4 separate regions of the Homo sapiens genome follow, and all the other regions are linked to region 3. Evidence: fine-mapped expression QTL. A gene starts in region 3. Each other region holds a variant in brackets. All regions are shown on one strand. Distances are from middle to middle.

What was found. PIP is the estimated chance that this variant, and not a neighbour inherited with it, causes the effect.
Region 1: its variant is the best candidate, but not a certain one, in a credible set for the expression of GABRR2 in thyroid (GTEx, PIP 0.67).
Region 2: its variant is the best candidate, but not a certain one, in a credible set for the expression of GABRR2 in skeletal muscle (GTEx, PIP 0.75).
Region 4: its variant is the best candidate, but not a certain one, in a credible set for the expression of GABRR2 in whole blood (TOPMed, PIP 0.69).

What each region holds. Positions count from the first base shown.
Region 1 is chr6:89,330,636-89,338,266 of GRCh38, reverse strand. It overlaps UBE2J1 (ubiquitin conjugating enzyme E2 J1), which reads left to right. Exons shown (of 8, transcript NM_016021.3): 5 at 1-62; 6 at 2,836-2,965; 7 at 5,062-5,181. Among named protein-coding and RNA genes, the nearest start is that of UBE2J1, 18 kb to the left of the region's middle. The variant A/G (reference allele first, on the strand shown) is at 2,615.
Region 2 is chr6:89,339,449-89,345,036 of GRCh38, reverse strand. It overlaps UBE2J1 (ubiquitin conjugating enzyme E2 J1), which reads left to right. Exons shown (of 8, transcript NM_016021.3): 2 at 1,281-1,354; 3 at 2,582-2,713. Among named protein-coding and RNA genes, the nearest start is that of UBE2J1, 10 kb to the left of the region's middle. The variant T/C (reference allele first, on the strand shown) is at 2,841.
Region 3 is chr6:89,312,309-89,320,292 of GRCh38, reverse strand. GABRR2 (gamma-aminobutyric acid type A receptor subunit rho2) reads left to right here and starts at 4,994. Exons shown (of 9, transcript NM_002043.5): 1 at 4,994-5,240. The coding sequence starts at 5,128.
Region 4 is chr6:89,345,244-89,353,595 of GRCh38, reverse strand. UBE2J1 (ubiquitin conjugating enzyme E2 J1) reads left to right here and starts at 874. Exons shown (of 8, transcript NM_016021.3): 1 at 874-1,057. The coding sequence starts at 1,027. RefSeq lists silencers at 413-512, 523-1,232, 1,263-1,322 and an enhancer at 619-1,568. The variant G/A (reference allele first, on the strand shown) is at 4,646.

The DNA of each region.
Region 1 (7,631 bases), 18 kb before region 3:
GGAGAGGGAGCCATAGGTTCTCTAGATTACACTCCTGAGGAAAGAAGAGCACTTGCCAAAAAGTAAGTTTTGCATTTCATTCTTCTTGAGGTCTGAATAGTATTCAGGGTAATGGCTATTAGGAGGTAGGGCCTACCTCTTACTATGTGACTTATTTTCTGAGTGACTGTAGCTACAGGATCTTATCTCAGTTTTGCTCTTTTAGGAATTCAGTTGTAATAATTTCCTTGGAGTGACCAGAATCTAAGTAATTTATTTAATGCTATCTAGTCTTAAAAAGTAGTTGATACTATTTCACTATTTTTAAAAAATTCAGTGGGAGATATATTCTCCTGGAAAACAATACCAGTCATTTGTTTCCACTATGGCATTATAGATGGAAAAGAACCAGAGCAATTATTTGTAGCTTTCCACAAGATTACAAACCTCTTGAGGGCCAAGAGGTAATCCACTTTATCCATCTTTGCATCTAGCTCATAGCAAGTGCTTAATAAATGATCTGGAATAAAGCAAAAGAGATTTTATCAAGTTGTGATTGCCCAGTGGCAATCACAAACAGAGAAGTGATGCCTTCTCTGTTTTTTTCAGGTGCAGGTGCACTTTTGTCTATATGACCAAGATCAGTCCTTCCATTCAGAGTAGCCCCTCTTTGAGTAGTGCTGATACCTAATTTTTGATGTTGATAATTTTTCTGCTCTGGAGTCTGCTGCCTACCACCCTTCAGACATATTATGTTAATTAAATTATATCATATTTTACCCTAGCACACCCCAGAGTAGGCCCTCTACAGATATTTGCTAAATCAGTTAGATTTTAGCATCTGGAAGATTTGGTAGACTTCTTGGTCTTATAAGCAACTTTTCTTTTTAAACCTTATTTCCAAACTATGGGTATGTACTTTATTTATACAGCTCTTCATAGATTACACTATGTACTTTGAATACATAGTATTTGTTTTCATTCGATTTACTACGTTGGTTTTTTTATCTTGATGCCTTTATCCAGTTGATTTCATGTGCGAGGTAAAAAAAAAAAAAAAAGAACTGGAGTTCTTGTTCTTCTAGGCTTCTCACTGTATATTCTAGATTCTCAGTCTATAATAGAAACCTTTTAAAAAATGATTTTGGGCCGGGCATGGTGGCTCACACTTGTAATCCCAGCTCTTTGGCAGGCCAAGACAGGTGGATTGCTTGAGTTCAGGAGTTCGAGACCAGCCTGGGTAAAATGGCGAAACTGCAGCTCTACAAAAAAATACAAAAATTAGCTGGGCGTGGTGGCACGTGCCTGTAGTCTCAGCTACTTAGAGACTGAGGTGGAAGGATTGCTTGACCTGGGGAGGTTGAGACTGCAGTGAGCCATGATTGTGCCACTGCACTCAAGCCTGTGGGACAGAGTTGAGACCTTGTCTCAAAAAAAAAAAACAAAGATTTTTGCATTCAACCGTGGTAGCATGCTACCATTGTGGATAAACTAATACATTCAAAATAAACACTCCCCTTAAGGTTCATCTGACTCAGTTAAAAGTGAATACATTTTGAAGCAAATAATTTGTATATAACCAATTCTCAAAGGTGTGTGGTCAACAGTGCCACTTCTGGTAAAACAAGAAATACTCATCAATAAATACTAAATTAGGCTGGGCACAGTGGCTCATGCTTGTAATCCCAGGACTTTGGGAAGCTGAGGCAGGAGGATCGCTTGAGCCTAGGAGTTCTGGACCAATCTGGATAACACAGGGAGACACTGTCTCTACAAAAAAAAAAATAATAATAAAATGAAATAAAAAAAAAAAATAAAATAAAATAAAAATTAGCGGGGTGTGGTGGCACACACCTGTGGTCCTAGCTACTTGGGAGGCTGAAGTGGGAAGATCACTGGGGTCTGGGAGGTTGAGGCTGCAGCAAGCCATGATTGCACCACTGCATTCCAGCCTGGGTGATAGAACGAGGAGACCCTGTCTCAAACAAACAAACAAACAAACAGAAAAACTAAATTATTGCTACTTTTACATATATTTTGTTTATATGATATTTCATAATTTTAAATAGCATGTTCTTCAAGACCTAAGGTTTTTTAATAGAACTAGAAGTACTATGAAAAACAATTTTTTAGAAGGAAGTTTAACAGTGTAACAATATATGTTTTATATATGATGCATGTTTACTTTCAGTCATTCATATCCTCAGAGGACTCTTGTAAACTTCAAGGAAGTTTTGACTATATCTGGAATACAAAGGGAAAAATGGAAAAACAAATATATTTTAGAAAATAATCTAGTTAACAGACATATCCTGAGTCTCTACCTAATGTATAATCAGCAATAAATTAAGTCTTTGGATTTTCTGCAAGTTCTCCCAAGTCTTTCAAGTTATACTGCTATTTGTGAGGGGTTTTTTTTTCCCTAGAAATATCTGTAAATTCTATGTTTAATTAGTTTCTTTACTGCTTTATATATATTTCTGCTAACAGATAATTTGATCTTGTTAAAGGACTTTTTTCACAGCCTTAAAATAGGTTTGTTATATGTGATCTCAAGGACAGTATAATAGACAATTTTCTCATTGTATAGATGTAAAACTTATTTTTCTTTAGATAGTTTATTGGAAAAAATAGC[A/G]TCTGAGCCCTGGATTTTTTTAAAGCCAGCCTAACATTTACTTGTCTCAGGACTATAATCATTACATTAATTTTCTAATTCATAGCATGTGGATAAATGTGATGTGGAATTTTCCAGTGTTCCTTTCTTTTAAGTTTAATGATCGAGCATTTGAGTGTCTCAGTGAGAGGGAATTAAACATTTAACTATTTATTTTCATTTAAAAAATCTTTTTCTACTAGATCACAAGATTTCTGTTGTGAAGGATGTGGCTCTGCCATGAAGGATGTCCTGTTGCCTTTAAAATCTGGAAGCGATTCAAGCCAAGCTGACCAAGAAGCCAAAGAACTGGCTAGGCAAATAAGCTTTAAGGTACTATAAATTCTTAAATAAATGCTAATCTTGCAACCCTTTTGTTTACTGCTGGATTCTGCATAGAAAGGAAAGCGATGCAGTTCTATTACAATATGACATTTGCCAATGTTTTTCTTTTTTCATATTTTTATATTTTTAATTTCTGTGGTTACATAGTAGGTGTATATATGTATAGGGTACATGAAATGTTTTAATACTGGCATGGAATGTTTTTCTTATTACAAAATTCCTAACTACATTCATGAAAGCTTTATAGAATAGTGAGGGAGTGAAACTTGAACTCTGGTATACAATGCCAGGGTTCAAATCCCAGCTCTGTTGCTTATTAGTAGTATGATGTCAGACATATTAATTAACCACTTTGTGCCTTTTTATTATCTATAAATAATAATGGTACCTAAATCATAGGATTGCTGTGAGGATTGAATTAATATATGTAATACATGTGTTGCATTCAGAACTGTCCCTGGTGCTTAATAAATTCTAGCTATTATTACAGAATATATAGATAAGCAACAAGAAGAAAATGATGGCCGGGCGCGGTGGCTCACGCCTGTAATCCCAGCACTTTGGGAGGCCAAGGCGGGCGGATCACCTGAAGTCAGGAGTTCGAGACCAGCCTCAACATGGAGAAACCCCGTCTCTACTAAAAATACAAAATTAGCCAAGCATGGTGGTACATGCCTGTAATCCCAGCTACTCGGGAGGCTGAGGCAGGAGAATTGCTTGAACCTGGGAGGCAGAGGTTGCGGTGAGCCGAGATCGCGCCATTGCACTCCAGCCTGGGCAACAAGAGCGAAACTCCATCTCAAAAAAAAAAAAAAGAAAAAAGAAAAAGAAAATGACATTCATAATCTCACCGCCAAGAAATAGCTACTGTTAATATTTTGGCATCCCTCCTATATATCCCTTTTTTCTGTATATGTTTTACCCGAACATAGGATTATATAATATTTTAATACTTTGAGTATTAAATATTTAATTATTGAAGGTATTAGCTGGGCGCAGTGGCTCACGCCTGTAATCCCAGCACTTTGGGAGGCCGAGACAGGCAGATCACGAGGTCAGGAGATTGAGACCATCCAGGCTAACACGGTGAAACCCTGTCTCTACTAAAAATACAAAAAATTAGCTCGGCATGGTGGTGTGTGCCTGTAATCCCAGCTACTTGGGAGGCTGAGTCAGGAGAATCGCTTGAACCTGGAAGGTGGAGGTTGCAGTGAGCCAAGATTGTGCCTCTGCACTCCAGCCTGGGTGACAGAGTGAGACTCCATCTCAAAAAAATATAAATAAATAAATACATACATACATACAGACGTAAAGTATTAAGTATTTAATCCTTCTGGAATTTAATTAGCTTCACAAACAGAAATGTCAACCTGCATTAAGCAGCATGCTCTCTTCCTCTTCCCTCTCCACTTCTCTATGGACTGTCTGTCTTTCCAGGTCCAGTTCCCTTCTCTTTTATTGTAGTGCCTGGAGGAGGAGTTGCTCAGAACATGTTTACTTTCTTCCTTCTGAGGATTCCTATTACACTTAAAATTGCTTCTGAAAAATCTCAGGACCAAATGTGTTTTGTACATGAGAATTTTTCAGACTTAAGAAAAGATCTTACATATACCATATATTAACTAACCTGCCGTGCGATCTGGGGCAGCACCTCATAATCAAATCCATTAGGATTTCTTCAGCAAATCTGGGAATATTACATTAATGTGGGATTAATGTTTACACTAATGTGGGATAAAGACTATTCATAGGTTCACATCAGCTCATATCAGGCTTTGCCTAAAAATTACCAAAAAAACCTTGAGTTTTGAGAGCTTTTTAGCATTGTGGATTGTGAACCATGGGTGTTAGTTTTGTCCCTCATCAAGTAACGGCTTCTTGAGAACAGGTGTTGTGTATGCTTCTTCCTATGATACCTAGTACAGTGTTGGACACAAGAGTGCTCAGTGATTAACTGCCTGATAATAGATATTAAACTAGCAATTAAAATAAATCCAACAGAGAGGATTTAGCAGGTTGTAGATTGTGTATGTTTCCTGTTGTTTCCTGTTGTCACACTGCTCTTGGGTCTATCTTGTTTATAGGCAGAAGTCAATTCATCTGGAAAGACTATCTCTGAGTCAGACTTAAACCACTCTTTTTCACTAACTGATTTACAAGATGATATACCTACAACATTCCAGGGTGCTACGGCCAGTACATCGGTATGGCTCTTATCTTTTAATATATATGTATGTCTCTATCATTATCACTGTTTGCAATAGGAGGAGAAGATCCTGGATCAAATATCTGAAAAATTTGGTTCTCTTAACAACTGGATTCTAACTCATCAGTCCCGCTAATGAATTATTATGTTGAGCAAGTTGTTCATGCTTTCTGGCCTCAGTTTTCTTTTTTTGTTAAATGGGGCTGGATTAAATAATTTTTGTCTTGTCCCTCCAGAATTCTGTGATTCTCTGAAAAGTTAATTTTAATATAGTGTTAGACTGAATAAAACAAAATATCCATATGTTAGCCACTTTCTAAATAGACACTATTTTTGGCAGGATTGTTCAGCTGCATTAAGGTACTGACTTAATAAAGTCGTAGAGCCAAAAATTTACTTAGACTTGCTCTGTCCAACACAGTAGCCACCAGCCACATGCAGGTGTCTACATTTAAATTTAATCAAAATCAAGTAGAATTTAAAATTCAGTTCCTCAGTCACACCACATTTCAAGTGCTCCATAGCCACATGTGGCTAATGGGTACCATATTGGACAGTGTAGACATAAACATTACTATCATCACAAAATTCTGTTGGACAATGCTACCTCGTATATACTAAGTGTCCAATAAATAATTGTTGAATAAAAGAATGAATGCTATGAGTGTTGTTAGTGGTGCCCTGACCTGTTGTCTAAGAAATTGTTTGGCCTAGGTGATCAGAGAGAGTGATTTAAAAAATATGACTGGATTGGTGCCAAAAAATAAGGATTATGGGAAAAAAATGATTTTCCTTCCTATATATAAAAGATTAACTGTCTTTGGAAGTCTTTTTGGTAACAGATTGTTTGGTTAAGTAGTCACATTTTTTTTGTTGTTGTTTCTCCAGTTTATTGAAGACTTTAAAGGGTGAGGGAAAATTGAAATAGAAGTTGGGCAAATATAGATTTGCCCTTTACCCAGCAATAACGTACGTAAAGTGGGAGTGAATAGTCTTGAGTGAGTCTCTCCTATTCAGAGAGTGAGCTGGGCAGAGAAAAGTTGGTTGAAGAAGAACAGGGTGGTAGTCTAGGGGGACTGAAGATGGAGGTCCAAGAAAAAAGTGTGTAGCGATGAGTTTAAATCATTTTTGTGTGATCCCAATGTAATTTTATGAATTGCAGGGGAAAACAATGAATTAATTTTAAGGTCAATATGTTTTAGTTCAAGATATTGAAAAAGCTTTCTAATTACTTTTTATTTCATAGTTTTTTTTCTAATAGAAGCATTCTATTACAAAAAGGAAGGTGGTAATCTTTTTTCACCTTTTAGGACAGCCTCCTAATGTTTGTGATGTATTTAAATCTTTTGTGTATTTTCAATCTATGTTAAGTCCCCTTGTTACATATTCCAGTTATACTTATTCCAGTTGTAATTTACTTTGTAATTATTTATTGTCTATCTCTCTTCCCAGAATGTAAGTTCTGTGAGGGTCAGGGGTCTCTTTCCGCTTCTCCACTGTATCCCCAGTGCCTGGCTTAGTGCCTTCTATATAGTAGATTGCCAATGTTTGTTTGTTGATTGAATGAATGAATCTTAGGATTGGTACTTTAAAAAATGCTAAGAATACAATTAAATAAATCAAGAAGTTTAAGTAAATTAGAGTGTACAAATAATGATGTTATTATAGTAGTATTTCTTGTTTTGATTTAGTACATAAAACTTAGAATTCTTATTCATAGATACAGGTCATTAATTGAGACTATTTTTAGTGAAAATACCAACAAGCAATAAATTGTCTAAAATTGCAAGTTAAGTTTTTAATTATATTTACATATAAACTATCTCAGAGTATGATTATATAATTTGACCACTATGAAAGTAACTGAAACCTGGTTTGGCTAAGGGTGGTTATTTTACATTAAGTATAATATAAATTAATTGAGATGTTATACATCAAATCCCAGATAAGCTATGATTTTTTTGTTGTTGTTAGCCTGAAGGAGAGGCAAGAGATTGCCACAACTCTAAATACCTCAGATAACATCAGGCCATCTGTTGCTTTTTAATGCAGATATTTTAGCATCAAAAAGCAATGGGAAATGTAGAAATGGGAAAAACACTGAAGGCAGTTTTGTTCTTGCAGTCTGTCAGATTTTCTCCTTTTCCCAGGGTAGGGATCGAGGTTCTGAATAAGCCATTTCATTTTATAATAAAAAGCAAAACTCCCTCACACATGCTGGTTATTCTAGAAAAATTTATATATATATCACTAGGGACTTAACTAAGAATGTGATTTTTTATCTTTTTAAGGGAGAGTCTCACTCTGTTGCTCAGGTTGGAGTGCAGGCATGTGATCATAGCTCACCGAAGCCTCAACCTCCTGAGCTCAAGTGATCCTCTTGCCTTAACCTCCCAAGTAGCTAGGACCACAGGTGGGCATGACCACACCTGGCTAAGTTTTAAAATT
Region 2 (5,588 bases), 26 kb before region 3:
CATCAGTGGTTGCAAACCCAGTTTTGAGAAGCCTTTTCCCTAACTCAGCCATCCCACTGCAGTATCCTGACATGTTTTAGCACCAAAAGCTTGAAATGAGAGGGGTTGGGATCCAGAGTGCATATCAAAGGATTGAATTTTGAGAGCCAATAGAAGACAGAGGGTGCAGATACAGATAGGATTGTAGATTGTGATAGGCATCTGAGCAGCTCCTGCTAGCAGTCATTCATCAGGGAGATAAAAAGCTGGGTGCCATTAACTGAAAGAGAGGAGAAATTAGACTAGGTGGGAAATAATCTTGGAGTGCTAGGTGGAAAGAGTAGGCTGGAAGGCCTACTAGAGAAATGTGGGGACATTAGGTGGCATTGTATCCCAGTAGAGGTTGTTGGTAATGACTTGTAATGGCATTACTGCACCATCCTCTCTGACTTTTTTTCCTCCTTTCAGTGATGCTCAGCTGTTTGGGTATAGACAGCAAATAAGATGGTTGGGTTGGGTCAGGCACAGTTGGATTTTATTAAGGGAGTGTACAAGAGGGACTCCTAAGAGCCAAGGGTGTGGATAAAGAGGAAAATGAATATAAGTATAGGAGGGGTGAAGAAAGTTGTGGGGTCAGTGGACTGGAGGTTTTAGTGAAGCTGAAGGATCATTTCAAGAAGGAATTTCATCGGGGCTTTGGAGAGTCAGTGAATTCAGGGGACAGTCCATTCATTTAATGCAAGATAGTGGATGGAAAGTCCCAAGAGTTGGAGGATATAGAGGTGTTTCCTGTTCACCGAGCATGAGATCCAGAGAATACATTTTTTGTTAATAAAGACATTTTAACAGGTAGAGCCAAATTGCCTGTGTTGGAATCCCATCTCTGTCATTTACTAGCTGTGTGACTATATAATCTCTCCGTGTCTCGGCTTCTTCATCTGGAAAATGGGGATAAAAATAATACCTATCTAGTAATGTTGTATTAAGGGTTAAATGAGTTATTAATGTCTGTAAAAGCACTTCAATAAATACCACCATATAGGAAGTATATATAAGTACTTATTAAATAAAAATAGTGTCTTCACTATATATTTAATATATAACTCTTTTAAAGTGTTAATGCCTAGCAACTGTTTCCTTCCTCTCCCCCTCTATTTATTCCCATAATCTTATAATTAAACCTTTGCCATATGCTCATTTGCACTAGTTCTCTACACATTTTTTCATTAGGCTCGTAAGACTGTGCTAATCATTCAGAAAAGTATATTTTAAATATCTCTATTTTATGAATTTTATTTTAGCTGTTAAACGTTTAATGAAAGAAGCGGCAGAATTGAAAGATCCAACAGATCATTACCATGCGCAGCCTTTAGAGGTTAGTTTCTATCTCCATGTTCTTCATATGGATTTTAATATTTAAAACAAATTTTTTAAAATTGCTTTTCATTGCTTTGAGTCATTACAGATGTGTGTGATGTAGTTTGACGTTTTATTCACCATATTTCATGAATATTTCATTAGCCATTCCAAATCACTTTAGAAGAAACGGATTTTGTGGTCTTTATAAAATGGGTCTCAGATGCTAAGTTGAGGTTAGATCTTTTTTTTTTTTTTTTTTTTTTTGAGGCGGAGTCTCACTGTGTTGCCCAGGCTGGAGTGCAGTGATGTGATCTCGGCTCACTGCAACCTCTACCTCCCAGGTTCAAGCAATTCTCCTGCCTCAGCCTCCTGAATAGCTGGGATTACAGGCCCCCACCACCACGCCCGGCTAATTTTTGTATTTTTAGTAGAGACAGGGTTTCACCATGTTGGTCAGGCTGGTCTCAAACTCCTGACCTCGTGATCCACCCGCCTTGGCCTCCCAAAGTGCTGGGATTACAGGCGTGAGCCACTGCACCCGGCCGAGGTTAGATCTTGAGTCTGAGGGAGGGGAGGTGGAAAGAACCCCAGATACTTTACAGTTTGGAAGCCTTTTGATGGGTCTCCGTAGCTACTCAAGGCTTTTTGTATAAACATCTCGGCCTCTCTCAGTCTTCTCATTTGTAAAAGGAGGGTATTTAAATATACCCAGGCAGGTTTTCATGGTAACAGTGGGAATAAAAATATCATAACTTAAGTGCAAGTATTTTGTAAACTGAAAAGTACATGGTAACTGTAAGATGACATTAAATACATTAGTATTACCATTTTATAAATAAGCTCTTAGGCATCTATAAGGGATAATTTTTAAAGATTTGTTAAAATAACCCAAACATAGTAATTTTTTGATTATATAATTATCATAATTTGCTATTCTTTCAAGGATTAATTTCCAATTTAAACCTGTAAGTTACTTATGAATATATAACAACACTCAGAAATTTTTAATGTGTTTATTATAAAATATTTTAGCTCAATGGAACATGAAAGCTAGATTAAATAGCTTTTACTTATAAATTTAATTTATCACTTATAGTCTCGAGACATCTCATGCATTAGAAACTATACTAGCAATAATATAAAGCATTTAATTTTTCTTGCTTGGTAATATTTCTAATATTCAGATAAAATGATCAAACTTTTCAATATTATTAATTCCTTGTGGATTATTGTTTTTGTTCAGGATAACCTTTTTGAATGGCACTTCACGGTTAGAGGGCCCCCAGACTCCGATTTTGATGGAGGAGTTTATCACGGGCGGATAGTACTGCCACCAGAGTATCCCATGAAACCACCAAGCATTATTCTCCTAACGGTAAGAATTTTGGATTTTTAGAGTGCTTGTGGCTTCACTCTTCCTGGTAGCTGCAAAATATAGTAAGCAAATCATTTTCATTAAGAAATAATAGAACAGTATAATTTTGCTTTTGGGGTCCAGGCCC[T/C]GGGACTACAATTTTTTTCCTCCAAAATAATTCCTAGGAAGCTGATGCATCTGAGAAGTAAAAATGATACAACTGAATGCATAAATGTCATATCATGGTTGTTAGGATTCAATGAATTAATATATGCCAAGTGCTGGGCATACACATCTGGCACTTCATAAGTACTCACTAAAGGGTAGCTAATGTTATTGTACCTTGTAATCATATTGTCTCCTTTAACTTCCCACCTTTCTTACACTCTCTTCCTCAGTTTTCTCATCTTTACAATGAGAATAATGATACCTACCTCATTGAGTTTATGTGGGATGAAAAGTATCAAGATCTTATTGTATAGCTCTTAGAATAGAGCCTGACACAGAATACTCAATAAGTGTTAGCATTATTATTACTGTTTATATCTCAGATTTTCTCTCTTTCTCTCCAAATTTACACATCTTTTCTTCATGTGAAGGAAAACTTTTTTTTTTTTTTAAGAGACACGGTCTTTCTCTGTTGCCCAGGCTGGAGCGCAGTAGCACGATCATAGCTCACTGTAGCCTCAAACTCCTGGGCTCAAGCTATCCTCCCACCTCAGCCTCCTGAGTAGCTGGGACTATAGGCACATGCCACTGCACCCAGCTAATTAAAAAGTTTTTTGGTAGAGACATGGTCTCATTGGTCTTGAACTACTGGCCTCAGGCAGTCCTCCCATCTCAGCCTCCCAAAGTGCTAGGATGACAGGTGTCACCATCATACCTGGCCAAGGAAAACTATTGATCTAATTCCTCTTTAATTGTTAAGCTTTTCTTCTCTCATTTCCTTTAACTATGTTTAATTATCCCCTAACCTTGAAAAAAGCAAAAACAAACACAAAAACCATTCCCTGTATCTGTTATCACTTTAAGCTGTGCCTATTTTTCTCTTTGGTAACCTCCAAGGCATCCTTTCCGTAGTTTGGCCTGCTGCAGTCCACCTTCCACACATAGTGCCCTGTTGAAACATGAAACTACACCAATCTCAGAGACCAGTTTGAGAAATCTCACTGCTTCTCCTCAGCCTTCATCCTGTTCTCAGTTAAACATCTTACCCACACGGAGTAGCAAATGGTGAAACAACAGGTATTCATCAATAAATACCAAATTAGGCCGGGCGCGGTGGCTCACGCCTGTAATCCCAGCACTTTGGGAGGCCGAGGCGGGTGGATCATGAGGTCAGGAGATCGAGACCATCCTGGCTAACAAGGTGAAACCCCGTCTCTACTAAAAATACAAAAAATTAGCCGGGCGCGGTGGCGGGCGCCTGTAGTCCCAGCTACTCGGGAGGCTGAGGCAGGAGAATGGCGTGAACCCGGGAAGCGGAGCTTGCAGTGAGCCGAGATTGCGCCACTGCAGTCCGCAGTCCAGCCTGGGCGACAGAGCGAGACTCCATCTCAAAAAAAAAAAACATAAATAAATAAATAAATAAATAAATAAATACCAAATTAATGCTGCTTTTACCTCTATTTTGTATAACAGAGAGAACATTTGTTTAAGAGCCAATAGGCCTAGATTCTGACTGGTGCTCTTTCCATTACACTATGGGTGGGTTACACAATGTCTTTAAAATTGTTTTCTCATCAGTCAAAATGAATGTTGTGTTTGGTAATTGTAATCACACCATAAAGTACCTGACATATAGAAGCTGCTTAATAAGTATTAGCTGATATAGAGAACTGCTAATGCTGGCAGTAGAGTTGGAGCAGGGTCCTGGAGACACTCTACTGTGTCAGGAGTCATTTTATTTAGTTGCTAGATCATGGGGAGAGCTAAGTGGTCTTCGGGGAGGGAGGGGCTGGTGCATGGGGAGACTGGTGGTGGTGGAGGACAGTAGTTAGCAGCAGCTCTTTACCAACAAATACAGGTATATTTCAATAGTTAGCCAATGGTATGGTCATACTAACCACACTGGCTGAGAATCAGCCCTGATTTTCAACATTACACTCTTTCTGGTTCACTTCTTTTTTGAAAAGTCTTCTCCAACTTTCATTCAATAAGTATTTATTTATCCTTTCATTCATCACTCCTCTGAAAATCACACCTCTCTCAGAGCCTTTCTCCCCATGTCTTTCCTCACTAACATCTAGTTAGGTGATACTGAGTCCTTAGGTTTCGTCCTGGCCTCTTGAATGTCTTCTCTTTTAGATTCTTTTTTTTTTTTTAACTTGAGATAGGGTCTCACTCTGTCACCCAGGCTGGAGTCCAATAGCATGATCACAGCTCACTGCAGCCTTGATGTCCCACACTCAAATGATCCTCCCACGTCAGCCTCCTGAGTAGCTGAGACTATAGTCACACATACCACGCTTGGCTAAATTTTTTTTATTTTTATTTTTTGTAGAGACAGGGTTTCACTTTGTTGCCCAGGCTGGTCTCAAACTCCTGGCCTCAAGTGACCTTCCTACCTTAGCCTCCCAAGTGCTGGGATTACAGACATGAGTCACCATGCCTGGCCTCTTTTAGATTCTTAACTGAGCCTAGCTCCATACTAGGCACAGGGTAGGACATTAGTAAATCCTCTCCCCTCCCCTCCCCTCCCCCACTCCTTCCCTCCTCCCCTTCCCCCTCCCCTCTCCTTCCCCCCTCTCCTTCCCCCTTCCCCTCCCCACCCCTCTTCCCTCCCCATCCCTTCCCCCCTCCCCTCCCCACTTCCCTCCCTTCCCCCCTCCCCTCCCCTCTCTCCTCCCCCATCCCCTCTCCTCCCCCCTCCCCCCCTCTCCTCCCCTCCTCTCCT
Region 3 (7,984 bases):
TGGAGAATAAACCTGAGAGGGGCTTCTGGCCGATTTTTGGTCAGGAGTGTTCTCTCTTACAGACTAAGGATATTTAAGGGTTTAGGAAGAGGGGAGCTTATTGTAGGTTCAGAGTGTTTCTATGTGAGGAAAAGGTTACTGTGGGGTTGAAATGTCTCTGGTTAGAGAGGAAGCTATCTCCGGGTTGGCATGTTTCTGGTTGGAGCGGGTTTATCTTAGGGGTTGGAATGTTTCTGGTTATTCTGACGTTAGCCATTAGGCTGATGTTTTGGGGCTGGATTTAGGCAGTTTTGTTTTGTTTTTTAATCAAGGGAAATTTAAAATGGTGGTGTTTGTCCAAGATGGTGAAGCTCCTGCTCTGTTACATATGAGTGCAGTATTTTTTGATATCTTTTGGGTATATACCTAGTAGTGGAACTGCTGAATTGAATAGTTGTTCTATTTTTAGTTCTTTGAGAACTATCCATTCTGTTTTCCATAGAGGTTGTACAAATTCACATTCCCACCAACAGTGTATAAGTATTCCCTTTTCTCTGCATTCTCGTGAACATCTTTTGTTTTTAGACTTTATAATAATAGCCATTCTGACTAGTGCAAAATGGTACCTCATTGTGGTTTTAATTTGCATTTCTATGATGGTTAGTGATGTTGAGCATTTTATTTTATATGCTTGTTGCTGCTTGTGTGTCTTCATTTGAAAAATGTTCTTGTCCTTTGCCCACTTTTTAATGGAGTTACTTGTTTTTGTTGTTGTTGTTGTTGAGTTCTTTGTAGATTCTGGATATTAGCCCTTTGATGCATAGTTTGCAAATATTTTTTCTTACTCTATGGGTTGTCTGTGTACTCTGTTGATTGTTTCTTTTGCTGTGCAGGAAGCTTTTGAGTTTAGTTAGGCCCCGTTTGTCTATTTTTGGTTTTGTTGCACTGGCTTTTGAGGACTTGGTCATAAATTATTTGCCCAGGCCGTAGGTATGTGGCTTTATTTCTGGATTGTATATTCTGTTCCATTGATCTATGTGTTGATTTTTATATCAGTATTATGCTGCTTTGGTTACTACAGCCTTGTAGCATAATTGAAGTCAGGTAAAACCTCTAGCTTTGTTCTTTTTGCTTAGGATTGGTTTGGCTATTCAGGCTCTTTTGGATTCTATGTGAATTTTAGAATTTTTTTTTTCTAATTCTGTGAAAAATGATTTTGATAATTTGATAGGGAATGCATTGAATCTGTAGATTGCTTTGGGCAGTATGGCCATTTCAATGATATTGATCCTGCCAATCCTTGAGCATGGGATGTTTTTTCATTTTTGTTTGTGTCATCTAGGATTTCTTTCATAAGTGTTTTGTAGTTCTTAAAGAGATCTTTCACCTCCTTGGTTAAATATATTCCTAGGTATTTTATTTTATTTTTGTAGCTATTGTAAAAGAGATTGCCTTCTTAATTTGGTCCTTGGCTAGATCTTTACTGGTGTGTGGGAACACTACTGATTTCTGTACATTAATTTTGTATTGTGAAACTTTACAAAATTCATTTATCAAATCTAAGAGGGCTTTTATGGAGTCTTTTTTAATTTTTCATCATCCTCCATGGTTGGATTTTGTGGAGTTTTTAGGGTTTTCTAGAAACAAGATCATATCATCAGCAAACACGGATAATTTGACTTTCTCTTTTCCAATTTAGAAGTTTTTTATTTCTTTCTCTTGCCTGATTGGTCTGGTGAGGACTTCCAGTACTATATTAAATAAGAGTGGTGAAAGTGGGCATCCTTGTCTTCTTCCACTTCTTAGAATGTTTTCAACTTTCCCCCATTAAGTATGATGTTGGCTGTGGGTTTGTCATATATGAGCTTTATTATGTTGAGATATCTTCCTTCTATGCCTAGTTTGTTGAGAATTTTTATGATGAAGGGAAGCTGAATTTTATCGAACACTTTCTCTGCATCTATTGAGATGACCACATAGTTTTCCTTAATTCTGTTTATGTGATGTATCATGTTTATTGACTTGTGTATGTTGAACCATCCTTGTATCCTTGGGATAAATCGTACCTCATCATGGTGTATAAACTTTTTGATGTGCTGTTGTTTTCAATTTGTGGTATTTTGTTGAGGATTTTTTGCATCTATATTCATTGGGAATATTGGTCTGTAGTTTTTTTTGTTGTTGTTGTGTCCTTGTCTGGTTTTGGTATCAGGGTGATACTGGTCCCATAGAATGAGTTAGGGAGAATTCCCTCCTCCTTGATTTTTTGGAATAGTTTCAGGAGGATTGGTTTTAGTTCTTTGTATGTTTGGTAGAATTTGTCTGTAAATCCATCTGGTCCTGGACTATTTTAGTTTTTGGGAGATTTTTTTTATTACTGATTCAATCTTGCTACTTGTTATTGGTCTGTTCAGGAGGTCTATTTCTTCCTGGTTCAATCTCAGGAGATTATGTGTTTCCAGAAATGTATTCATTTCCTCTAGGTTTTCTAGTTTGTGAGCATAAAGCTGTTCATAACAGACTCTGATGATCTTTTGTATTTCTGTGGTATCATTTGTAATGTCTCCCTTTTCATTTCTGATTGTGTTTATTTGGAGCTTCTCTCTTCTTTTCTTGGTTAGTCTAGCTAGTGGTTTGTCAATTTTCTTTATCTTTTCAAAAAAACAACTTTTTTTTTTATTGATCCTTTGTATCGTTTTATTGGTCTCTATTTCATTTAGTTCTGCTCTGATCTTTGTTATTCCTTTTATTCTGCTAACTCAGGGTTTGGTTTCTTCTGCTTTTCTCGTTCCTTGAGGTGCCATAGGAGTTTGTTAGTTTGTGATCTTTCTACTTTTTTGATATGGGCATTGAATACTGTAAATTTCTCTCTTAGCACTGCTTTTGTTATATGCCACAGGCTTTGGTATGCTGTACTTTTTTTCATTTCAAAAAGTTTTTAAATTTCTGTCTGAATTTCTTTGTTAACCTACTGATTGGTCAGGCTCTCTGCTCTTCTTGCACAAAGAACTGGGAGGGACTCTCTGGAATTTCCCTATCTAAGAAAGTTTAAATGCACTTAAGACCCCCTACCTAGGGATCTCACAAAATAACCAGGAAAAATCAACCATCTGAGAAGAGAAGAGACTGGGAGTTCTCACTGCACCCAGATAGACTTTTCATCTAGTCTTCTGAGGGCAGCTTTAAGAGATTACCTGTTGGACTTTATCTGTATAAGACAACTTTAGTTCCTGTGTAGTTCCACCCCTCACTTTCCTCCTGGGTCCATTCATCCTCCCTAATGATTTACTGTCCCTCAAAAGAATTGCCTACATCCCCCATCTCTTCCTTATGAAAAAGGGTATATAAATGTCTGTACCATGCTGGGTAATTGGGTAATCATGATGTGATTTTCCTCCATGCATGTTAATAAATCTGTATGCCTTTTCCCCTATTAATCTTCCTTTTGTCAGTTGATTTTTTGGTGATCCTCCATGGGGCAAAGGGAAAACTTTCACTTGGTCTCTACAGCTCCAGATCTATTTCTATAGTCTAGAAATAGAACTAGACTTTCTCCTGAACTCCAGGCTCATGCTCTAGCTTTTTTTTTTTTTTTTTTTTTTTTGGAGACGGAGTCATGCTCTGTCGCCCAGGCTGGAGTGCAGTGGTGTGATCTTGGCTCACTGCAGCCTCTGCCTCCCAGGTTCAAGTGATTCTCCTGCCTCAGCCTCCTGAATAGCTGGGATTAACAGGCACGTACCACCACACCTGGCTAATTTTTGTATTTTTAGTAGAAATGGGGTTTCACCACGTTGGCCAGGCTGGTCTTGAACTTCTGACCTCAGGTAATCCACCTGCCTCTGCCAAAGTGCTGGGATTACAAGTGTGAGCCACCGTAGAATTCTTGATATTATTGTTGACTTTTCTGTCTCTCACCTTCTACTCTATCTGCACAGGCACCAAATGTATGCTACCGCAGAACTAACTTGAGTATCTCACTCTTCTGTCTTCCTTTCTCTTCTTCCTTCTTCGCTTCCCTCAGAGCAGGACCTTATTCTCTTTTGTCATCATAAGTTCCCTGATTCGACTGATCCCAATTAGGAATTATTTCAAAAATAAAGTAGATCATGCCATCTCACTTTGCTTAAGGGAATCAAAGAGCTTCTTTTGATTCTGTCATTTATACATAGTAAAATCCCAATTCTGTTTCACTTACGGCTATCCCACCTCCTGATCTCTGTCCTCATCTCCCTATGTTTCTACCATGAAATTTTCCATTGCCAGGACATAGCAAGCAATGAGTAGTTTTTAAACATATTCTATTTTGTTCAGTAGGTTAGACATAACCACATGTATCTCTACAATTCTAATGTGCTTAATTCCATATCCCAGGATAGGAATAAAGCCTAATTTATGATTGATTTTATACATTTTAGGGTTAAAGGCCAAAGTTAATTTAATGCTTATGGTAGGAAGAAAAGCTTACATAATCATGAATTCTATGATTAATGTCATCCTTGAAACTAAAAATGTATTTTATGCTTTGATGTTTTCACTGGAAAAAGTTGATCTATATTTGTGAGAAAGGAAGTATCCTTGCTCATAGGCAAAGCATATTCTCTTAGCTCCATAAATAAATCAACCCTAAGGAAACAGGTCATTCATGTTTACTCAGCATTTCCTGAACACATTTATGTACCCATCTAAATGTCCACCAAGTCCTCTCTGCAAATCTACTTGGAATCCGAGCTGACCCCCTGGTGGATGGGACAGACTGGTTTTATGCAGCCAGAAGATGGACCAATAATCTCAGCACAAAGCTGGCATGTTCAAGAGATTTAATTTTTTATATAACAGCTTTAGCCAAAGCTATTCTAGGATTCAGTGGAAGCAGAATTTCATGAGGACAAACTTCTCGACTAATGGCCAATCACTAATCAGCAGGGAGGGCAAAGCCTGGTGTTTGTGTCATGGCCCGGAGTGGAGGGGGTGAGTGGGGCGTCAGTATCAAATAGTAAATCGGGACAACTAGCCTGGCCAGCCTTGCCCTCACAGCCCCTCAGAGCAGCCCGTCAGGAGGCAGCAGATGGATCAATGGTCAAGCCAGGGGGGATTTGCTCTGCCACAGGCTACTGGAAAGCAGCTTTTTGCCTCACAGATGTCCACAAAATGCCTTATTTTACAAGACTCATTTTGTTCTTGTTTTGCTTGATGGTTCTCGTGGAGAGCAGAAAACCCAAGAGGAAGCGATGGACAGGGCAGGTGGAAATGCCCAAGCCAAGGTAAAGTCATAGGTGGGAAAGGAGGGAGGTTACCCTGCATAGTAGCAGCAGCAGTGGCACAGTGGGATGGCTCCCCAGGGGGCTAAGGTCCTATTGAGATATCGCCCTATGAGAATGAGAACCCAGCTACTTCACTGAACGCAGCCTCTCCCTGGGCACACATACTCTATGTGTCACAAGCATTGAGAGCAGAACTAGACTGGGATGAGCCTTCCTTCGGATGCCTGCGTTCAGCCAAAGCATTTTGATTTGAGGCAGATATAAATAGTTGGAGACGTAGTGGGTAAAATCATTCTCTGTACAAATCACATTGTGCTGCTTTGTTTCTCAGGGTTACAACCGATGACCTGCTAAATAATTACACTCAAGTATTTTGGGGAGAACTGTATATAGGAACCTAGCCTGAACTATTAAGAAAAAAATGCATACGGGAGTTGTCTTCCTTAAATTATTTGCCAGAGAATAACTTTATAATGATATTGGGTTTCATTTTACTGTTTTGAATCTTAGAAGAGGTGTTCAGAAATTTGCTTAATTATCAGAAATATATGTGTGAACAACAGTGAATGCAATTTCATGATGTAATGGAGACATTCCCAAGAAATAATAGCCCAGGATCTGCATTCAAAATCATTACATTACAAATCTAAGTTCCTTAGGAAGTTTATTTTGAATTGACATACGAAGCATCATACTCCAGGCCTGAAGTAGACATAAGGACTGTTAGACATGGAGATAAGAAAAGAACAAGCAGCTAAGATATAAACACCATGTGTGGCATGTTACACATTTATTTTCCATTCTACTAAGCATCAGATAAACTAGTGGTTTTGAATATAAATTAATATCTTGAGGCACATTTTCTAGGTCAGTCCCCAAACATTTTTGAACATGCGCTGCTGTCAATGACAAGTTTTTGAAACTGTACCTCTAATACATGCATATTTACTTACAAATCACATACATGTGCTGTTATAAATATGTATGTTAAAGTTTAATTGATTTCTTATTTTTAGAAAAAAAAAAAAAAAACCCTGAATATAAATAAGAGTTACAGCCTCTACTTCCAGTATCCCAGTGGCAACTGCTGCTCTGGGAGAGGTTATTACTCTCTTTTGTTTATTTGTTTGTTTGTTTTTTGAGATGGACTCTCTGTCACCCAGGCTGGAGTGCAGTGGCGCAATCTTGGCTCACTGCAACCTCCACCTCCCGGGTTCAAGCGATTCTCCTGCCTCAGCCTCCCGAGTAGCTGGGATTACAGGCGTGCACCAGCATGCCTGGCTAATTTTTGTATTTTTAGTAGAGACAGGGTTTCACCATGTTGGCCAGGCTGGTCTCAAACTTCTGACCTCAAGTGATCCACCCACCTTGGCCTCCCAAAGTGCTAGGATTACAGGCAGAAGCCACCACACCCAGCCTATAATTACTCTCTCTGGAGCCTAGTCCTACTCAGCGGAAGGCAAACAGATCAAAACCCTCAGAGGCCCTGCTCTGAACAACCCATGCGGGTTGGGTTGCCAGAACCATAGGCTGTTAAACTGGAAGGAGCCTCAGATGTCATCGGCCCAGCAAGTCCCCTGAACTCTAATTTTGGGAAACGTGAATGGCTGTTGAGTGAAATGGGGTTCCAGGGCCACCAAAACGTGGAAAACCCTGGTTTAGACCATTTTCAACAGATGTCTCTACAGCAGAACTTTTAGAACCTTTGTTATGCAAATAGGCACTGTGAGAATCTTGAAGAGAGGGATAAATTATGCAGGGCTTCTCAGAAACAACTAAAAAATCCACAGTTTTTTGGACTGTCTTGTGGGATTCCTACTCCATGGAGCACACACTGGGAAACTGTCCAAGTCAACTCATTTGACAGATGCTGAAATGGCTCAGGGGCATGAGTAAGTCACACGGCCTGCTAGTGGCTTCCCAACACTAGAATGTAGGTTCCTGATTTACTTAGACTGGAGGAAAATCTGTTCAAAACTGTCTATTCTGTAAGAACTGGGGTTCAGCACAAGTCCCTTGGGGTGCCCAGGGACCCCACTCAGCAGCCTGGGCTTGGCGGCACCTCCGTCTCACTTTTCCTCAGAAGTCCACAGTCTCATTCCCAAACCCGCGCATGAGCCTGGGCACAGCTGGGCTCTGACTCTTAGTGGGGAGGAGACTTTGTTGAAATCCAGCCCATGAGGTGTTAAAGTGGGAAAAGATGAACACATACATTTCAAGGAAGTAAAATATTTATTAAACTGAGGCTGGGGGAAAAGGACAGGGAATGTGGTTCTGGGCCTTTCTGCATCCATGAGAATGCACACACAGTCAGACAGTCAACAGGGTGACGCCTCCTTGTGAACATTTCAGCCAAGCCTCTGACAATTTATTTTTCCAAATTACTTTCATTATTGACACGCAGGTGTCAAGCTATACGAACAAATAAGAAAATGACCAGACCCCTTCTGATTACAGTCTTAGAGTGCTTTCTCTCTTTAGGATTGCTCCTTTTCTTAGAAGTCCTGTTCACACACACGGTCACACTCACACACATACCGCATGCCACATATGTGACTTCACGGGCACACACTATGCACATGGTCACCCTCACACATGCACACTGTGAAGACTTCTTTGAACCTGGAAGCCTTCCCTGCCTCACCCCAGCCAAGGCATGCACACAGAACAATGATTCCGCCCAGCAGCTGCTTTTACAAAGACCAGCCCCTATTTTCTGCTGCTTTGTGTCTCTGTGTACTAAA
Region 4 (8,352 bases), 33 kb before region 3:
GAATATCCAACTCTGGCCAGAGCCGTGGCTCACGCCTGTAACCCCAGCACTTTGGAAGGCCGAGGCGGGCGGATCGCTTGAGTCCAGGAGTTCGAGACGAGCCTGGCCAACACGGTGAAACCGTGTCTCTAACAAAAATACAAAAAATTAACCGGGCATGGTGGCACACACCTGTGGTCCCAGCCACGCTGGAGGCTGAGGTGGGAGGATCGCTTGGGCCCGGGAGGTAGAGGCTGCAGTGAGCCAAGATCGCGCCACTGCATCCCAGCCTGGGCGACAGAGCGGTGACACCGTCACACACACACACAAAATAAAAAATAAAAAAAATCCTATTCCATTTCCTTGTCACTGGCTTTCCCCCTCCTCACTTAACCCCCGCCCCTCGCAACAGCAACTGAATCTAAAAACAAAGCCTTTCCCAGACCCTGCGGGACCGCGCGCGGGCAGCCGGCTGCGGACAGCTTTGCAGCCGGAGCCCGGCGCCCCCTCCGAGCTCTCGAGGGCCCGGGGGTCCCGGACCTCGCCTACAGCGGGCAGGGCCGGGACGAGAGGACGAGGACGCCGCTCGCTCCTGCACCTCCCCAAGCCGGCTTCGCCGGGCGGGCGGCGGCTGGGTAGTGACCGACCGCCACGAAGCTACTGCCACGTCAGGGCAACTTCACAAATCCCGGACGAGGGCGGGTGACGCAAGCCGGGCGGCCGCGGCAGGGCTGGGCCTGCGACTACCCGAGGAGGCTGACCTCCAGCCCGGGCGCCCGGTTCAGCGCCGCCCCGGCCGGCGCCGGTGCCTGCCAGGCACTCAGGGAGGCGGGGGCGCAGTGGAGGAGGCGGCGCCATCGCGAAGCGAGCGCCTCGCCCGCACTCAGCCTTGCCACCCCGCCCGCAGTCCAGGCTGGACTGGGCGGCATTTGCCGAGGCTCCTCGGCCAGGCCCCGTCCGCCCGAGCCGCGCTGAGACCCGGGCAGCGGCCGCGTGGAGAGGAGGTGGCAGCGGCCCGGGAGGCCGGAGCCAAGCCAGCGACCCACCATGGAGACCCGCTACAACCTGAAGAGTCCGGGTGAGCAGGGCTGGGGCCCCTGGGCGAGGAGGGCGGAGTGACCCTGGACCCCGGGGTGGTCGCCGCCTCGGTCCCCTCGCGTCTGGCGCCACTCGCGGCTCAGCTCCTGGTTTCGCGCTCTACGCGAGACCGCCGCCTGCCCGGGAAGTACAGGCCGCAGGGCGAGGTGGCCGGGTGGACGTCCGCTGCCAATCCCCCGGCCGGCCAGCGCGCCCCGCAGCACCCAGCCTCTCCCTTTTCTCATCTTCGCCTGGTCCCGTAGAGCTGGGTCAGAAACTCATCCCTGAGAACAGGTGTAAAGGTGATGTCGGTGGGCGATAGTCATCAACCCCCTCGCTGTACCTGGTCGCTATTCCCTCCCTGTCGCTGCCACCGGACTTCTATTTACTTCTATTTACTGCCGGCTGATTTACTCACATTTGAGGAGTTGGTCGTTTAAATATCCTATTTGCAGCACTTGGGCGAATACAATTACAGACATAAAGGAAATGTTCTGTAACTAAACCAGTTAACTATAGAGCTAAAGCAAAACAAAACAACAACAAAAAAACACCTCGTTGAGCCCTGTTCTTGAGAGCTAACCTTGATTTTTGCCAGACTGGCTAATATGAAATGTATCTGTATTCAGTCGTAGCGATTCCTTTCCTGCATTTAATGATCCTGCTTTATATTTACACAAGCAGTCCCAGCAATCCTAGCCTCTAATTACTTTCTGGTGCATTATAAAGATAAGCAACTAGCTTTCTCAGCTTAATAAAACAGGCTTGAAATGAATCATTGGATCCTCTAAATGGTATTTTTTCTATCTGTACCTTGATACATTTTGTCAGGGGGAAGAAACTCCACAGTTAACTCTGCATGATAAACTCTAGGATATTAGTGATGATTTCACCAACTTTTGCTGTTGCTTAAAATTTCCTTCCAAAAAAAGCTGTTTCTCAGTAGGAATTAGCAAGACTAGCATCCTTGTGGAAAGAGTTGACACTGTGAATCTTTGGGTTTTTTGTAAGGTTTCAGAATATGCAAAAACCCCAGAAAAGCCTGAGGATATTGATTGGAGGGAGCTTTGTTAGCCTGAGTGCTGTCAGGCTAAGAAATGTCCTTAGGTGACCAAGTGTGTAGAACTGGTCATAATATTTTAGGAGCCACTGACTCCTTAAAAAAATCTGATGAAGACCTGGCACGGTGGCACACGCTTGTAATCCCAGCACTTTGGGAGGCTTGAGCCCAGGAGGTGGAGAGCAGCCTGGCCAACATGGTGAAACCCCGTCTCTACTAAAAACACAAAAATCAGCCGGGCATGGTGGTGGCGCACTCCTGTAGTTCCAGCCACTCGGGAGGCTGAGGCAGGAGGATGGCTTGACCCGGGGAGGAGGTTGCAGTGAGCCGAGATCGCGCCACTGCACTCCAGTGTGGGCGACAGAGCGAGACTCCATCTCAAAAAAAAAAAAAAAAAAAAAAAAAAAAAAGAGAATCCCGGGGTGGGGAGGGAGGAAGAAAAGACCAAAGAGAAAGAGGGAAAGAAAAGCTTAATTTTTAAGCTAGATGGTAAAATGATTGAATTATTTACATTGTGGTATATTTAACTGGAGCTGTTTGGGTAAAAATGTATGGTGGCTCCCTGGTCACACGGTTCCTTAGGACAGCAGAGGTGCTTAGTGAAAGGTCCAGAGGATAATGCACATGTGAGTAGTAGTGCAGTTTAGAATGGAGAACTGGTGGAACCCAAGAGATTGTTGTCAGAAAACATCGCTCAATTTCGATAGGTTAGACTTAATACTATGATGATAAGCTTTTAAAAATCTCCAGAATTTTGTATATTTCCAAAGTATGTGAACTATTGTCAGCTGGTTGAGCTTTGGTTGACATGCTTCTAGCTGTGTCATAAATTGCTTCCTTTTTCTGGTTTCATTTCCTCAAAGATAGTGTTGCTGCTCTAAAAAAAAAAACACAATGCTTCTTAAAAATCTATTTTTGTTAGTGTGTGAATTATTTGGAGTTCATGGAGAAGTTGAATTAGGTAAGATATGGGACTTACTGAAAATGCTGGGAGGCATTGTGAAAATACTTCCTTCCTTTGCTTTATTCTCAGTCCTGTGGTATTTTTAGAGTAATGCCTGTGTGAAGGGGAGCAACTGAAAACTCCAATTTCCTGTGTATGGCAGGGTGCACACACACACACACGTAAAATACCAACATACCAGACAAACAAAAAACAACCACACAATGTGAGGGATATAATCTTTTACTCTTTATCTGATGTGGGATTGTCTTTGATGTATGAGTGGAAAGATTAAGTGAAGACAATACAGATAGCTGGTTAAGGGCCAGTGTACTAGCATGTGGATATAGTAAATTTTTTCATTTCATAGGTGGGGAAACTTTTTGCTTTATGGTTTTTTTTTGGAATGGACTTGTGATTATGGATAGAGCTGTTGTGTAGGATCACCTCACAGTAGTTGTCTGTGGTAGTTGTCAGTAGTTGTCTATGGATCTGCTACTGTAGTAGCAGTAGTTGTCTATGGATCATGCTACTTGTCTATAATCTGTCAATAGTTGTCTATGGATCAAGCTACTTGACCCGTGTTTGGGTCTGCTCTGGCCAAGGAAGTAGGGTCTTATAGTACAAAGTGAAGAAATGTGTATAAAGCACCTCCTTTGGCAGCTTCTTCATCAGGGGGCCATTGACATGTGCAGCAGGTGGTGGGAGTATAAGAGACTGGTGCAAAAGTACCCACTGCCTCCACCAGAAGTCTAAGAGTTACCTATCCATGCCATTGGTGTCAACTGCACCTTCCCACTAATCCACTCAAGGTTTCATGTCCAACTCAGGCCCTTCTCGTAAGCTATAGATACACAGAACTTATGGTGACTCAACATCTTCATTTCCCATAGAGTGAAAAAAATCTCTGTAAGTATAAAGACAAAACTCATCAGTTTTCTTCTCCTCCCCTAAACTTGCAGTTTACCCTAGTATTTCATATCTCAGGGATAGACAGCACTCAGGCACCTATGGGAGTCATTTTTTATTTCTTGGTCGCTTCCTTGCTCCATCCCTGCCCTGAAACACACAACTCAATACACACACAGAAACACATATATCTAATCAGTCACTGTTGTCACCAGATCAATCAAAACAAAAACTGATTACCCCCAAATTGAAAAATTTTCAGTAGCTTTCTGATAGCTGTCAATAAAGTTCAAAGTAAACTGCTTAGCTTGGCCTACAGGGCTGCTCATGATTGACCCTGCCCTTCCTCACCAGCCTCACTGTCCACCACTCTTATGCTCTTCCTCATTTTCTTTTTTTTTGAGGCAGGGTCTCCCAGCCTGGAGTGCAGTGGTGCCATCACAGCTCACTACAGCCTCAACCTCCTGGGCTGAAGTGATTCTTCCACCTCTGCCTCCCGAGTAGCAGGGACCACAGGTGTGTGCCACCACACCCAGCTAATTTGTGTATTTTTTGTAGAGACGAGGGTTTCACCATGTTGCCCAGGCTGGTCTCAAACGCCTGAGCTCAAGTGTTCCCTCCACCTTGGCTTCCCAAAGTGGTGAGATTACAGGTGAGAGCCACTGCACCAGGCCTGC[G/A]TTTTTACCTATCCATTTTGCCTGAATGACTCTCTAGCTGGAGTAGCTTTTCTCACTTAGGTGCTTTGGTTCCTGTTGGAACCTCTGCTTAGAATGCCTTCCTTTAAATCCATCTGAAATTCCTATAGTTCTTCAAGCTTTAAGGTTCAGCCTTGTCTAGCTCCCCTAGGCAGACTAAAGTAGTTCCTATATATACTTGTACATATATACTTGGTCAATATTACCACTTGGTTGTAATTATTTTCATGTCTTTCTCTACTGACTGTTACGGAAGACAAGAAGCAGGTCTTGGTCATTGTTTTATCTCCAACACTCAGACATTCTTTAAATGTTTGTTGAACTGATACATTTGCAGGGTCCTCCTGGGCAGAAACATCACTCTGTAGGCATTTGCTTAAGTACCTTCATTATGGGAGCAGGAAGAGGCAGTTAGGGAGCATGCCTTCCTTAATATACCTGTCTCCTGCATTTCACTCATGCTTTGGGAATTGATAATATCAAGATAATTGCTTTTGAAGAGGAATCCATATATGGGAAGCAGTGGCCTGTAGAAGATCCCTTTATTTTTAGCTGTATACAAACCCCAATGTGAGGCTAGTGAGCTAGCCAAGGTGTGTGAAGAATGCTAATGCCTAGGCCCACAGCACCTAGAGCATGGCTCCAGAGTGTCCATGTGGCCTCTATAAGAAAGAAGAACAAGAGCAGGCATCCAGGTGCCACCCCTTCCTTTCCTGGCACATCTTATCTCACCACAGTGAAAGGATTCCATGGAAAAACCTTTCCAAGAGATAGGAGAGGAGCTGGAATAAAAGTTTCCTCTCTAGCCATGTAGAAGCAAGAGATGGAGTATCAGGAGGGGCAGACTATGCTGTAGCCCGGTTGCCAGGCAGCACTGTGAACCATGACTGTTTCCTAACAGTGGTATTTCTCCTCAGGAGCCAGGGAGCCATATCATAAGGCCAGCGAAATCTGCTGAGGCATGGTTTTGAGTTAGGAAGAATCATTGAGAAGGCCTTATATACCAGTCCATTTTCAACCTTAATGACTCAGGGACTGGGCAGGAAGGAGGGGTGAAAAGGAAAGGAGAATTTTGTGGAGAAATTATTGACTCTTATTTGACAGATGTAAACATCAGATCAAGTGACTTGTTCAAGGACTTAGAGCTACAAAATGTCAGAGTCAGAATTTTAATGCAGCTCTAAATCGAGTCCCTGTTTCTTTTCACTGAAGCATTCATAATATATGTTATTTTTGCAAAAAAAATAGCTTATGGAAACAAGAGACTAATCTCACCTTTTGGCTACATGACCTTAGCTCTTACATGGTATGTGCCTGAGTGACTTATGAACTAATTAGCTATTTAGCTGTTGAACCAATGATTGTTCCTTTACAGGATTGGTACAGATACATTCTTATAACAATTCTGACCCTTTATACATCTCTCATAATATCCAGGTACAAGTTTTGAGTGTTTATTTTCTTCTCTCCTGTTGAACTGAACTGAGTAGGGAAGAGGCAGAGAAAATGCGATAAGGGTATAGAATGACATAAAATCTGACTTCAGCTTAATCATTATTGAGTTCAGCCAGTTGACGAGGAATGAAGGAAAAACAATCTTTTTGGCATCTCCAAACTAATTAACTTCATAACAGCTTCCATAATTGCATTTCTATCTAATAATATTAACTTAAAGGAATGATATGTTTATGTGGCTTTAAAGCAGGGTTTTCCATCTTTGTTCTATGGGTCCCTTCAGGAGTGAAATGGAAGGACAGGGAGTAGATAGTCCGCAGGCCCTTCCACTGGCCTCTGCAACCAAAGCGGCTCTGTGGTTTTTGTTTCACCTGTTGGGGTTCTCATTAAGCTTTCTTTGAATGAAGGATTTTGTTTTATTAAATAAGTTTAATTGTTTTATTAAGTAAGTTTAAAAACCATTGCCTTTAATCGGATTCTGAGAGCTATGTTGAGAGAAGATAGTAAAATTTAATTCAACTAATATTTGAGTACTTACCATGTGCTAAGCCCTGAGGAGACTGTACTGCTACAGCTACACTGTCATTACTATTGCTTAGCAGGAAAAACAGATATTAAACAAGTAATTACAAGTGAGATGAACTTCATAAGAGGAAAAATACAGTGTTATGATGGCATAGAGCAAGGAGACTCAACCTGGTCTCTAGGGCAGTGGTTTCTAAACCTAACCAGAGTAATTCAGAGAGCATTCCTAGTCTCTACCCCTCCCTAGGACGCCTCAGAGATTTTGATCTGCCCAGATTGAAATCTCCAAGCACTGTAGGGGGTGGGGGGCAGGGGGCAACCAGGGAAGGTGTCATAGAGACATTCCTGAGAAGTTACTTAAAGGTCTAGGGTAGCCAGACTAGACGGTGAGGCGGAGGATGGGGCCGGAGCAGCCTGGGCCCTGAGGAAAGCTGTATAGAAAGGCTGAGAGTGGAGGGGAGGTAAAGTGTGTTCAGGGAATTGACCAAAGCCCAGTCTCTAGACTTGGAGGGAGAGGGTGTCTCAGTATGTACATATTTCTAATATAGCATTTATCATTCTGTTTTGTATTGACTGCACCTCCCAGCCGTCAGTCTTTAGTGACCAAAGCCATATTTTGTTTACGCATGAAGCTGTAGCATCTAGTACCTAGTAGGAACTCAAGAAATAGTTGATGATCCAGTGAACAAAGTCTCTGCATATAGGGGCTTAGTTCAGAGTAAGAAATGGAAAAGAATATTAATAATTGTGAAGTAGGATAGTAACAACTTTTTTTTGGCCAGGCATGCTGATTCCCGCCTGTAATCTCAGCACTTTGGAAGGCTGAGGTAGGAGGATTGCCCGAGACCAGCCTGGGCAAGACAGGGGGACCCCAGCTCTACAAAAAATTTAAAAATTAGCCAGGCATGGTGGTGCATGCCTGTGGTCTCAGCTATTGGGGAGGCCAAGGTGGGAGGACTGCATGAGCTTGGGAGGTTGAGGCTTCAGTGAGTGAGCTGTGTTCGTACCACTGCCCTCCGGCCTGGAGGGCTTTTTTTTTTTTTTTTAGACGTAGTTTCGCTCTTGTTGCCCAGGCTGGAGTGCAACAGCACGATCTCAGCTCACTGCAGCCTCCACTTCCTGGGTTTAAGCGATTCTCCTGCCTCAGCCTCCCTAGTAGCTGGGATTATAGGCATGTGCCATCACACCAGGCTAATTTTGTATTTTTAGTAGAGATGGGGTTTCACTATGCTGGTCAGGCTGGTTTCAAACTCCTGACCTCAGGTGATCCACCTGCCTCGGCCTCCCAAAGTGCTGGGATTACAGGCCTAAGCCACCGTGCCTGGTTTTGTTTGTTTGTTTGTTTGTTTTATTGAGATAGTCTCTCTCTGAAGCCCAGGCTGGAGTGCAATGGCACGACCTCAGCTCACTGCAACCTCCACCTCCTGGGTGCAAGCGATTCTCCTGCCTCAGCCTCCCGAGTAGCTGGGATTACAGGCGTCCGCCACCATGCCTGGCTAATTTTTGTATTTTTAGTAGAGACAGGGTTTCACCATGTTGGCCAGGCTAGTCTCGAACTCTTGACCTCAGGTGATCCACTCGCCTCGGTCTCCCAAAGTGCTAGGATTACAGGCATGAGCCACCACGCCTGGCCTCAAATGCAATTTTATGCAAAAGTCTTGATACATACCAAACCATTGTGGTTATATACATGTAGGGGTTCCTTCTCA